Linked DNA regions of Homo sapiens: all the other regions are linked to region 2. The links come from fine-mapping of genetic effects on gene expression. A gene starts in region 2. Each other region holds a variant in brackets. All regions are shown on one strand. Distances are between the middles of the regions.

The links.
Region 1: its variant is fine-mapped to the expression of VANGL1 in whole blood (TOPMed, PIP above 0.99).
Region 3: its variant is fine-mapped to the expression of VANGL1 in whole blood (TOPMed, PIP above 0.99).
Region 4: its variant is fine-mapped to the expression of VANGL1 in whole blood (TOPMed, PIP above 0.99).

The regions. Positions count from the first base shown.
Region 1 is chr1:115,619,908-115,622,512 of GRCh38, forward strand. It overlaps LOC124900438 (small nucleolar RNA SNORA42/SNORA80 family), which reads right to left and starts at 2,098; the gene lies at 1,965-2,098. The variant C/T (reference allele first, on the strand shown) is at 1,567.
Region 2 is chr1:115,640,467-115,643,071 of GRCh38, forward strand. It overlaps VANGL1 (VANGL planar cell polarity protein 1), which reads left to right and starts at 1,504. Exons shown (of 8, transcript NM_138959.3): 1 at 1,504-1,620. RefSeq lists a silencer at 1,236-2,225 and an enhancer at 1,361-2,119.
Region 3 is chr1:115,569,392-115,571,996 of GRCh38, forward strand. No RefSeq gene overlaps it. Among named protein-coding and RNA genes, the nearest start is that of VANGL1, 71 kb to the right of the region's middle. The variant A/G (reference allele first, on the strand shown) is at 1,190.
Region 4 is chr1:115,573,063-115,575,667 of GRCh38, forward strand. No RefSeq gene overlaps it. Among named protein-coding and RNA genes, the nearest start is that of VANGL1, 68 kb to the right of the region's middle. The variant A/T (reference allele first, on the strand shown) is at 1,102.

The sequences.
Region 1 (2,605 bases), 21 kb before region 2:
TGTTTTTAACCAAGACAGAATAATAGTGACCACATTTACACTCCTGCCAGAAACCAAGAAACTGGACAAAATATGCAAAATGATTATTTTCAGTACCCTGAACATTAGTCAACAAAAGACAGTGATTCCTGAGAGATAGAGAACAAACAAAGTGAGACCTATGATTGCCCAGGTATACTCCTTTGGGAGAGTTCCTGGCTCTGGTTCAGGGAAAGCAAACCCAGGAAAAGCCTAGAATACTATCTGATGAGGAGACAGAGCTGAGAGTCCAGGGAAACTAAGGTAGCTAGGGTTTTCGGTAGAGAGTACCAGAAAGTCAACAACTGCAGAGGGAGAAAACTGAGATCTGCAGAGGGTCTCTCTCAAGTATTCTACAGGATACTGATCAGTGCGTGGGTGAGGGGAAACAATCTGAGACTGAGGAAAGAACTACCCAAAAGGATTAGAGGAAACAGTACACGGCATTCACAGTGACTAGGAATAGTACCTAATCATACCAGCCAGGCTGGAAAACCTCACAATTCAGGGGGCATTGGGTAGAGTACTCCAAAAGATCTTCCTCAGTGTTTAGAAATAATGAGCCATAGTCTAAATATGACTCAGGTCCCACCTAACATATATTAAAAGCAATACCTGAAAGGATCTAACTGTTTCCAAGTAACTTAATTGCATCCCTGAACAAAGCTCAAGAACATTTATAGAAATACAAAAATATCCAGCACACAAGGTAAAATTAACAATGTCTAGCATCCAGTAAAAAATTACAAAACATGAAAAGCAGGAAAATATTAACTAAAATAAGGGGGTAAATAAATAATCTGAAAATGACACAGAATTAATAGTGATGTTAAATTTAGCAGTCAAAGGCATTAAAATAGTTATTCCAAAAAATTAAGTAAAAACATGGATGATATAAAAGAGACCAAAATAAAACTTACTTTAAGGATTAAAAATTACAATGTCTGAAATTTAAAAAAAAAACATTGAATGGGATTAACAACTGATTAGACATTGCAGAAGATGCATAAACTTGCTGGTGATTAATACATTCAGATTTTTTAAGTCTAAAAATTTATCTACTTTGCCTTCATTTTTGAAAGATATTTTCAGTGGATATAAAAGTATATTGTGTAGAATGCTAAACTGACATTTTTTTTTTCAGTACTTTAAAGAAGTTACTCCATTGTCTTCATGCTGGCATTGTTTCTGATGATGAATTTGCTGTTATTCTTCTCTTAGTTCTTCTGTATGTAATGTCTCCATTCCCTGTGCCCCTCATCCCCCCAAATGTTTTTCCCTTTGTTACTGGCTTTGAGCAATTTGATGTTGTTGAGCAATTTTCTTCAAGTTTCATTGAGTTTCTTGAATCTGAGAGTTTATCATTTTCATGATATTTGGAAAGTTGGGAGCCATTATTTCTTCATGTATTTTTTCTATCCCCCTCCTGGGAAACCCCTAGTACATGTATATTATACCCATGACTCACTTTTCAATTTTTTTCTATGTCTCTTTTTTTTTTTTTTTGAGACATAGTCTCACTCTGTTGCCCAGGCTGGAGGGCAGTGG[C/T]GCAATCTCGGCTCACTGCAACCTCTGCCTCCCATGTTCAAGCAATTCTCCTGCCTCAGCCTCCTGAGGAGCTGGGACTACAGGCACCTGCCACCACAGACAGCTAATTTTTGTATTTTTTAATGGGGTTTAACCATGTTGGCCAGGCTGGTGTCGAACTCCTGACCTCGTGATCTGCCCACCTCAGCCTCCCAAAGTGCGGGATTACAGGTGTGAACCATCGTGCCTGGCCTTCTCTGTGTTTCATTTTGGATAGTATCTATTGCTATGTCCTCAAGTTTATTAATTTTTTTTCTGCAATGTCTTACCTTTTGTTAATCCTATCTAGTGTAATTTTTATTTCAGAAATTATAATTTTCATCTCTAGAAGCTCAACTTGGATTTTTTTGCTTGTTTGACACTGTGCAACCCCCTTCGCTACACACAGCCCATGGGAAGGAGGCTGGGCAATGGTTCAAGGCTCAAGTTTACACTGGCATGGGTACGCTATGAGGCCCACAGAGAAGGGCCCCCAATGAACCCACTACCATGCTGTTGGGTTTGTTTTATGTCTTTCGTTTCTCTACTTATCATGTTTAATCTTTCACCTAAGTTTCTGAATATATGAGATACAACTTAAGATGACCATTTTGATTTTGTTTTTCTGCTTCTATCATCTATGTCAGTTTTGTGAGTTTCAGTTGATATATTGTCCTCCCTGTTATGGCTCACTTTCTCCTGTATACTTCTTTATATGTTTGGTAATTTTTATAGGATCTCAGTCATTGTAAATTTGCTTTATTGGGTGACAGATATTTGTGCATTTCATAAATATCCTTGAACTTTGTTCTGTAATACAGAGTTATTAGAAAGAGTTTGACACTTTCAGGTCTTGCTTCTAAGCTTTGTTTGGCACAACCTGAGCAATGTTTCAACTAGGGGGCTTTTTGTCCCACTACTGAGGGAATACCTTTCTGATTACACTACCCAGTGCTCCACAAACTGAGGTTTTTCAGCCTGGCTGGTCATAACAGGCACTATTTACATTCCTGTGTGAGTT
Region 2 (2,605 bases):
TCTACATTTTAGAGATGAGAGAGACATGTTTTTATAATGTTCTACATTTCTGACCCTGAGTGCTGATTTGGGTGAATAGACCATTGGCTTTACCCATAGGAACCTGGCTGCCTGAGTCAGCAACATCTGCTCTCTGGAGCCTACTGGGAGGCTGGGGGTGGGGGAGGAAGATGGTCTAGGCCACTGAGTGGGGCAGCAGAGCCTGGGGACTAGGAGTGGTGAAAATCAGCCACATTGAACATATGGGTGTCTTCTCAAGGAAATGTGACATATGCGAGAGAAAATGGAGTCTAGAAGGGATGAGGAAGAGGTGATCAAGGGAGTGAGGGGTTCTTGGAGCCAAGGTTCCCTGATTAAGGCTAGTCAGGGTGGGCCTGCATTTCCCCACCCCAAATGCCCGCAATACTCCTGTAGACAACTCTTAGGAAATTCAGCACTTCATTATACACTGCTTCCACTGGAAAATCCTGCCACGTAAGCAGCTTTGGGTCCCAGCTAGATTGGAGATGATCAGTAAGGAACCCTAATGCTACCAACACAAGACAACTAAGAAAAGTGCAAATATTCATGAAAATCGTTGCCAACTGTTTTGTAATCCTCACCACAATCCTGCAAGGTGGACAGCAGCATCCTCACCACTTTTCAGACAGGTAAACAAAGGCTCAGAAAGGAAACAGTACCTGGTTGGAATCAGCACTGAAGCTTCAGCTACCTGCCTGCAGAGATGTGCTCATCTAGCAGTTTCTAGGAGACTAGGCTGGCGGCAGTGCCTGCTCTGATAAGGGAGGAGGAGGGGAGAGGCTTGCTGTGGTGGCTTGTAGGGGGTGTGTGTGTGTGTGTGTGTGTGTGTGTGTGTGTGTCTATTTGTGGGGTCATTTCCAGGGCTACATGTGAGTTTAAGTGTGTGTATATGGGTTGAGATATGGTGTATATGGATATTTGTCGGTCAGTTCTTGGAAAGTGTGTATATGAGTGTGTGTTGAGTGGGGTTGGGGGGTTAGTCCCTGAGCCGTGTGAATATGTGGATGGGGGCACTCGTGAGGGCAAATGGGCTCGGATTTTGTGCATGATTGTGTGTGTGTGTGTGTGTGTGTGAGCTTGAGATTCCAAGTATGTGGGGGAGGGAGGGGGCGGTGTCGGAGATCAATCCCTGGGCCATGTGTTTATAGTGTGTGTGTCTGCCCAGAAGAGAGTGGGTTACTGGGCTGTGCACGTCTGTGTAGGGTGAGTGTGTGTATGAGGGTGAATGAGTGTGGGAGGTGTCATTCCCTGGTCCGTGTGTAAGAGTGTGACCGCGCACGCCTTCGTGTGTGTCCCGGGTGTGTGGGGTCGGGGCGGTGACGAGGTGAGGGGGACGCCGGCCGAGCCCCGCCCTCCGCTGCAGGTGGGCCGGCCCCGCGGCGGGGCCGGCAGCGCTAGCTGTTCTTGGCTCGCGGCCGCGCCGGGCTCGCAGGGCTGGGCTCGGGCTGCGGGGCGGCGCCGGGACAGGAAGCGGAAAGCAGCAGTGCAGCGGCGGCGGCGGCGGGGCTCTGCCTCTCCAGGAGCCCAGCGCAGGCCGCAGAGCCGGGGCCGCTGTGAGCCGAGACCGCGGGCCGCGGAGCTCGGGCGGCCGGCGCGGAGGTGAGTCCCGCGAGAGGCCGAGCGCTGCGCGGCGGCGGTCCCCGGGGCAGACCGTTGGCTGGGAGACGCCCCCACCTCGGACCCCGCGTGCCCCTGCGCCCTCCTCCCGCATTCGCCCCGCCGGACTTCGACCCCGGGTGGCCGGCTCCCGCCTCGGGCCGGGGGCTCCCTCCCCTCCTCCGGAGCGCTCCGGGTAGTGCTTCCTCTGACTCCACTCTTCTCCCCATGCGTTGCGCCCCTCCTGGCCCTGCCGTGCGATCTCCGCCGCACCCCACTCCTTGGGGTCCCGGGGTTCCCTGCTCACACCTCGGACGTCCCTTTCTCCCCGGGCTGGCCTTTGGAGTGCGCCCCTTCGGTGCGCGTGCCGGGGCGGCGGGCAGGCCGGCAGGGAGTGGCCGAGCGTTGGAGGCACCGGGCGGCTGCAGCAGCCGTGCAGGGCGGGAGCCGGGCGCGCACCGGGGTTCCCACCCCTGGCGGGGCTCGACCCGGGCGCCGCCTGGCCCTTCGCCAGGAACCGGGACAGAGCTGGTCTGTGTGCACACCTCGCTCACAAAAAATTGAGCCGGCCCTGGAGGCCTGGGGGGCGAGTCCGGTTGCGCCTCGGAGAGCGCAACAGGCAGGTAGGAGTTTACTTTCAAAAACGCCGGGGTGGAGCAGAGGCGCCTGGCGGGTCTCTGCCCAAGGTGTCCCTGCTGGAGGAAATCTCACCGCGCCGGGGCAGCCTTCGCCACCGGCAGGACCTCATTTCCTTCTGCAGTCTTTGAACTGCCCCAAGCATCGCGCCTAGAGAAGTGTGAAGCTTTATAAAAATTTAAACGCGTCCGTGGTGGCGGCAGCAGTGGGGCGGAGCCGCGGCCTGGCTGCTGTGTGATGAGCAGATGAGACTTGGAGCTGAGGAATCTGTTGCTCAGTTTTCACTTCTCCAAACCAGGTCTAATGCCCACGCTGCGAAGGTGTTGTGAGCTCTCTTAGATTCTCCTTAGGA
Region 3 (2,605 bases), 71 kb before region 2:
CCTGGGTAACAGATCAAGACTTTTCTAAAAATAATAATAATAATAATAATAGGGAGAAGATTTGAAATGTTCTCAAGACGAATGATAAATGTTTGAGATGATGGATATTCTAAATAATTTGATCATTACACATTTATGCATATCTCAAAATATCACATGTACTCCATAAATATGTATAATTTTTATATATCAGTAAAAAAGAATGTTATCAGTATAGTTTACACTTTTTAAATTTTAATAAAAGTTCCTTTAAACAAACAAAAGTGTTTTCTTCCATAGCAGTAAAAATGATTCCTCTCTATAACTATGTAAATGGATTTTGCCCCACAGAGACTAGAAATCACTGGAGGTCAAATCTTGATTTAAACTGATTTTAATATCTTACCAGTTTCCTCATTATTTAAAGAGTTATGTAAAGTGTTGATACATGTTTATTTTAAATTTCCATGAGAGTCATGAATTTGCCATTCTGAGACTATCTTAGCACTTTTGAAGATCATCCACTAAGCTGCTCCAGTGACTCTCCTGAAGGAGTCAGGTGAATTGCACTGCATGAGACAGGCACCCCATGAGCTGCCTAAGTCCAGGCACATCTTTTGTTAGTTCTCAGAGTGGCTTCCAAGTGGCAATGGAACCTCAACTTCTTTGCTGAGTGAACTTTTAATATCAGCAGAAATTATGTTTTATTGTATGTCAGCTTAAACATAATTTTGAAGGTCTTAGAAAACCTAAAACATGGAACTAATATTAAAGTGAGCTAATAAAAGGAAAATATTGGATACAAGCATTGAATACTAAGAATAATTTTAATTTATTTTCTTTTGCTTCTTATTTTCATATGCAATAGAGCAGCTATATCTTTCAGTCATTTTTGCCACTTTAAGAAAGTATAAAAGGATTGGGTGGCTGTAGAAAGTTGTGCTTTGTGTATTCAAGATCTTTGATGATCTGCTAAAATGCTTGTATATGACAGAAGTCAATTACCTATTCCCAATTTTCTGCAAAACAGAAATTAATTACTTTGATTAAAAGTAATAATAATATAGGTGGCTAAAACTATATCAGAACAATAGTAACAAGGAAAATAACCTGTATGTTTATTTTTCAAATGAAAAGAAATAGTCCTAAAGTAACAGTTTCTTCCAGTTAGAGGAAGAAAGAGCATAATGAAGGACAAAGCTCAAGCAGA[A/G]TGAATTGGATTTGCCTTGGTTTAAAGCATCTGAGTCTGAAAAGAAATTATGAAAAGAAATTATCTACTAAAATTTTGGCAAACTTTGGTCAGTTCTGATGGACCTGCTTTCTGGGTTTATTGATTAATGACTTCATTTACAACGTGAAAGGTTATTAATTATCATCTCTTCAATCTGCCTACAGATAAAAATTTCCATGTCTTAGAATAATTTCCTGTGTTTTGTTGACTTTATGATTATTAAAAAAAACAGAAGTACTAAGTTTCTGTGGAGCTGTATTATTTTCTTTGGTTTATTTTTTAATATTTTATTATAATTAGGTTAAGTTGCTAAATGTTGCTCCTCAGTCACCCAAGACCCTGTCTACATCAAGTGATCAATTCTGTTCCTACGACCTTTCGAATTTGCTCTCCCAAGATCAGGTCCTACATTTAGGACAAATAAAAAGTAATATTTTCAGAATATTATTTATACCTAGAACTATTATTAAGATAACCCCAAGAGCCCATGGAAAATAGCCATAATTTTTTATTTTACCTTATAACTAGGAGAGATGTTAGGATAATTAGGTTTGCTTGGCATGCTTCGTATTTCTTAACCAGCTCAGCATTTATTGTAAGAGCTGCAGAGGAGGCTGGGTGCAGTGGCTCACACCTGTAATCCCAGCATTTTGGGAGACTGAGGCAGGTGGATCACCTGAGGTCAGGAGTTCGACCACCCTGGCCAACACAATGAAACCCCCTCTCTACTAAAAATACAAAATTAGCCAGGCGAGGTGGTGGATGCCTGTAGTCCCAGCTACTCTGGAGGCTGAGGCAGGAAAATCTTTTGAACCTGGAAGGTGGAAGTTGCAGTGGGCCGCCGAGATCATGCCAGCCTGGGCAACAGAGCAGGACTCTGTCTCAAAAAAAAAAAAAAAAAGAAAAAAAGTCGGGTGCAGTGGCTCATGCTTGTAATCCTAGCACTTTGGGAGGCCAAGGCAGGCAAATCACCTGAGGTCAGGAGTTCGAGACAAGCCTGGCCAACATGGTGAAACCCCATCTCTGCCAAAAATACAAAAAATTAGCCAGGTGTGGTGACTCATGTCTGTAATCCCAGCTACATGGGAGGCTGAGGCAGAAGAATCACTTGAACCCAGGAGGCAGAGGTTGCAGTGAGCCAAGATTGTGCCACTGCACTCCAGCCTGGGTGACAGTGCAAGACTCCATCTTTAAAAAATAAAAAATAAAAAATAAAAAAAAACTGCAGAGGAGGAATTATTAAATCATAGAAAACATAGAAAACACTTAGCCCTCCCTGAATTAAGTTTGAATGGGTGAAATATTGTTAATATAAATATTTCAAAAACAATATGCTTTATGTGAAGGCCCTGGAGATTTTTCAGTGTGTTCACTATCCATAATATGTTTTTATCC
Region 4 (2,605 bases), 67 kb before region 2:
GCTTTGTCAAAAATGCTAATAGTGATATGAACAACAAGGTCTAGGCTGAGGAGGTCTCAGATGGCGATGAGGAACTTGTTGGGAACTGTAGTAAAGGTGACTCTTGCTATGTTTTAGCAAACAGAGTGATGGCATTTTTCCCCTGCCCTAGAGATTTGTGAAACTTTGAACTTGAGAGAGATGATTTCAGGTATCTGGCAGAATAATTTCTAAGGAGCATTCAAGAGGTGACTTTGGGTGGTGTTAAAAACATTCAGTTTTATAAAGGAAGCAGAGCATTAAAGTTTGGAAAGTTCACAGCCTGAAAATGCAATAGAAAAGAAAGACCCATTTTTTGAAGAGAAATTCAAGCCCACTGCATAAATTTGCATAAGGAACGAGTTAATTAATGAATGTTAACCCCCAAGCAATGGGGAAAATTTCTCCAGGCATTCAGAGGTCTTCACAGCAGCCCCTCCCATCACAGGCTTGGAGGTCTAGGAGAAAAAGATGGTTTCCCAGGCCGGGCCCAGGGTCCCTCTGTTGTGTGCAGTCTAGGGACTTGATCTGCATTGCAGCCACTCCAGCCATGACTAAAATGGGCCAAGGTTCAGCTCGGGCTGTTGCTTCAGCGAGTGGGAGCCCCAAACCATGGCAGCTTCCATGTGGTGGTGAGCCTGCAAGGGCACAGAAGTCAATAATTGAGGTTTGGGAACCTCCACCGAGATTTCAGAGGATGTATGGAAATGCCTGGATGCCCAGGCAAGAGTTTGCTGCAGTGGTGGGGCCCTCATGGAGAACCTCTGCTAGAGCAGTATGGGAGGGAAATGTGGGGTCAGAGCCCTCAAGCAGAGTCCCTACTGGGGCACCACCTAGTGGAGGTGTGAGAAGAGGGCCAAGGTCACCCAGATCCCAGAATGGTAGATCCACTGACAGTTTGCACTGTGCACCTGGAAAAGCCGCAGACACTCAATGCTGGCCCATGAAAGCAGCCAGGAGAGGGGCTATAACCTGCAAAGTCACATGGTCGAAGTTGCCCAAGACCATGGGAAGCCACCACTTGCATCAGCATGGCCTGGATATGAGACATGGAGTCAAAGGAGATCACTTTGATACTTTAAG[A/T]CTTGACTGCCGGGTTGGTTTTTGGACTTCCATGGGGCCTGTAGCCCCTTTGTTTTGACTAATTCCTCTCATTTGGAATGGCTGTATTTACCCAATGCCTGTACCCCCATTGTATCTAGGAAGTAACTAACTTGCTTTTGATTTTACAGGCTCTTAGGTGGAAGGGACTTGCATTGTCTCAGATGAGACTTTGGACTGTGGACTTTTGAGTTAATGCTGGAATGTGTTAAGACTTTGGGGCACTGCTAAGAAGGCATGATTGGTTTTGAAATGTGAGGACATGAGATTTGGGAGGGGCTGGGGCAGAATGATATGGTTTGACTCTGTGTCCCCACCGAAATCTCATCTTGTAGCTCCCATAATTCCCACGTATTGTGAGAGGGGCCTGGTAGGAGATAACTGAATCATAGAGTCGGCACTTTCCTGTGCTGTTCTCATAATAGTGAATAAGTCTCACGAGATCTGATGTTTTAAAAAATGAGAGTTTCTGTGCACAAGCTCTCTTCTCTTATCTGCCACCATATGAGATGTGCCTTTCACCTTCTGCCATGATTGTGTGGCATCCTCAGCCACATGGATGGAACTGTGAGTCCATTAAACCTCCTTCTTCTTTAAATTGACCAGTCTTGGTTATGTCTTTATCAGCAGTATGAAAACAGAGTAATACAATATTTCAAATAATAGATTCTTGAATACATAATTCCAAGATTACACAGCTTAGAGAACCTCAGACTGTACCAGTGGGCTAAGCAGGATTTCCATGTCTAGTTTTACTCAGGAAGCAAACAGCTTTATGAAGGCAAACTACTACTGATGGAAAACCCAGTAGCAAAGAATTAATTACAGTATTACGTTAAGTCTCCTTTTTTCCAGGTTTTTTATCTTTACTGAATTTTTTTTTTTTGTTTTTGGCCAAAGAAACTTTTTGATCAAAAAGTTATTCTCTACTGGTAGCAGCAATAATTGAGAATTTGGTTTTATGCACTCACAATTTGGGTTATTTTTCTAGATAAATGATAGACATCTATTCTCTTTTGAGAGAGATGACAAATAATCCCATTTGACACCCCTTTTCCTTTATTTGTCCACGTTTATCTCAAATCAACTAAGTATTTGGTGCACACTGAGAAGAAAAAGAGATTTTTTATATCTGTAATGGTGATGTTTTTGTTTTTGTGTCTATTTTTTATTACTCTCTAGAAAGCATTTATTAACATTTACTTTAATTTTCTTTCCGTATTCTGGAAAATAAATATAATACACAAAATGCAATAAAATGCTCTCTTCCCATTTCAAATAAATATAATTTGCTCTTGCAAAACATGTAATAATCTGTGTAATTCACTACAGTATATGTGTTAGTCCGTTTTCACACTGCTATAAAAAAAATACCTGAGACTGGGTAATGTATGAAGAAAAGAGGTTTAATTGACTCAGTTTCACAGGCTTAACAGGAAGCATGGCTGGAAGGCCTCAGGAAACTTACAATCATGGCAGCAGGAAA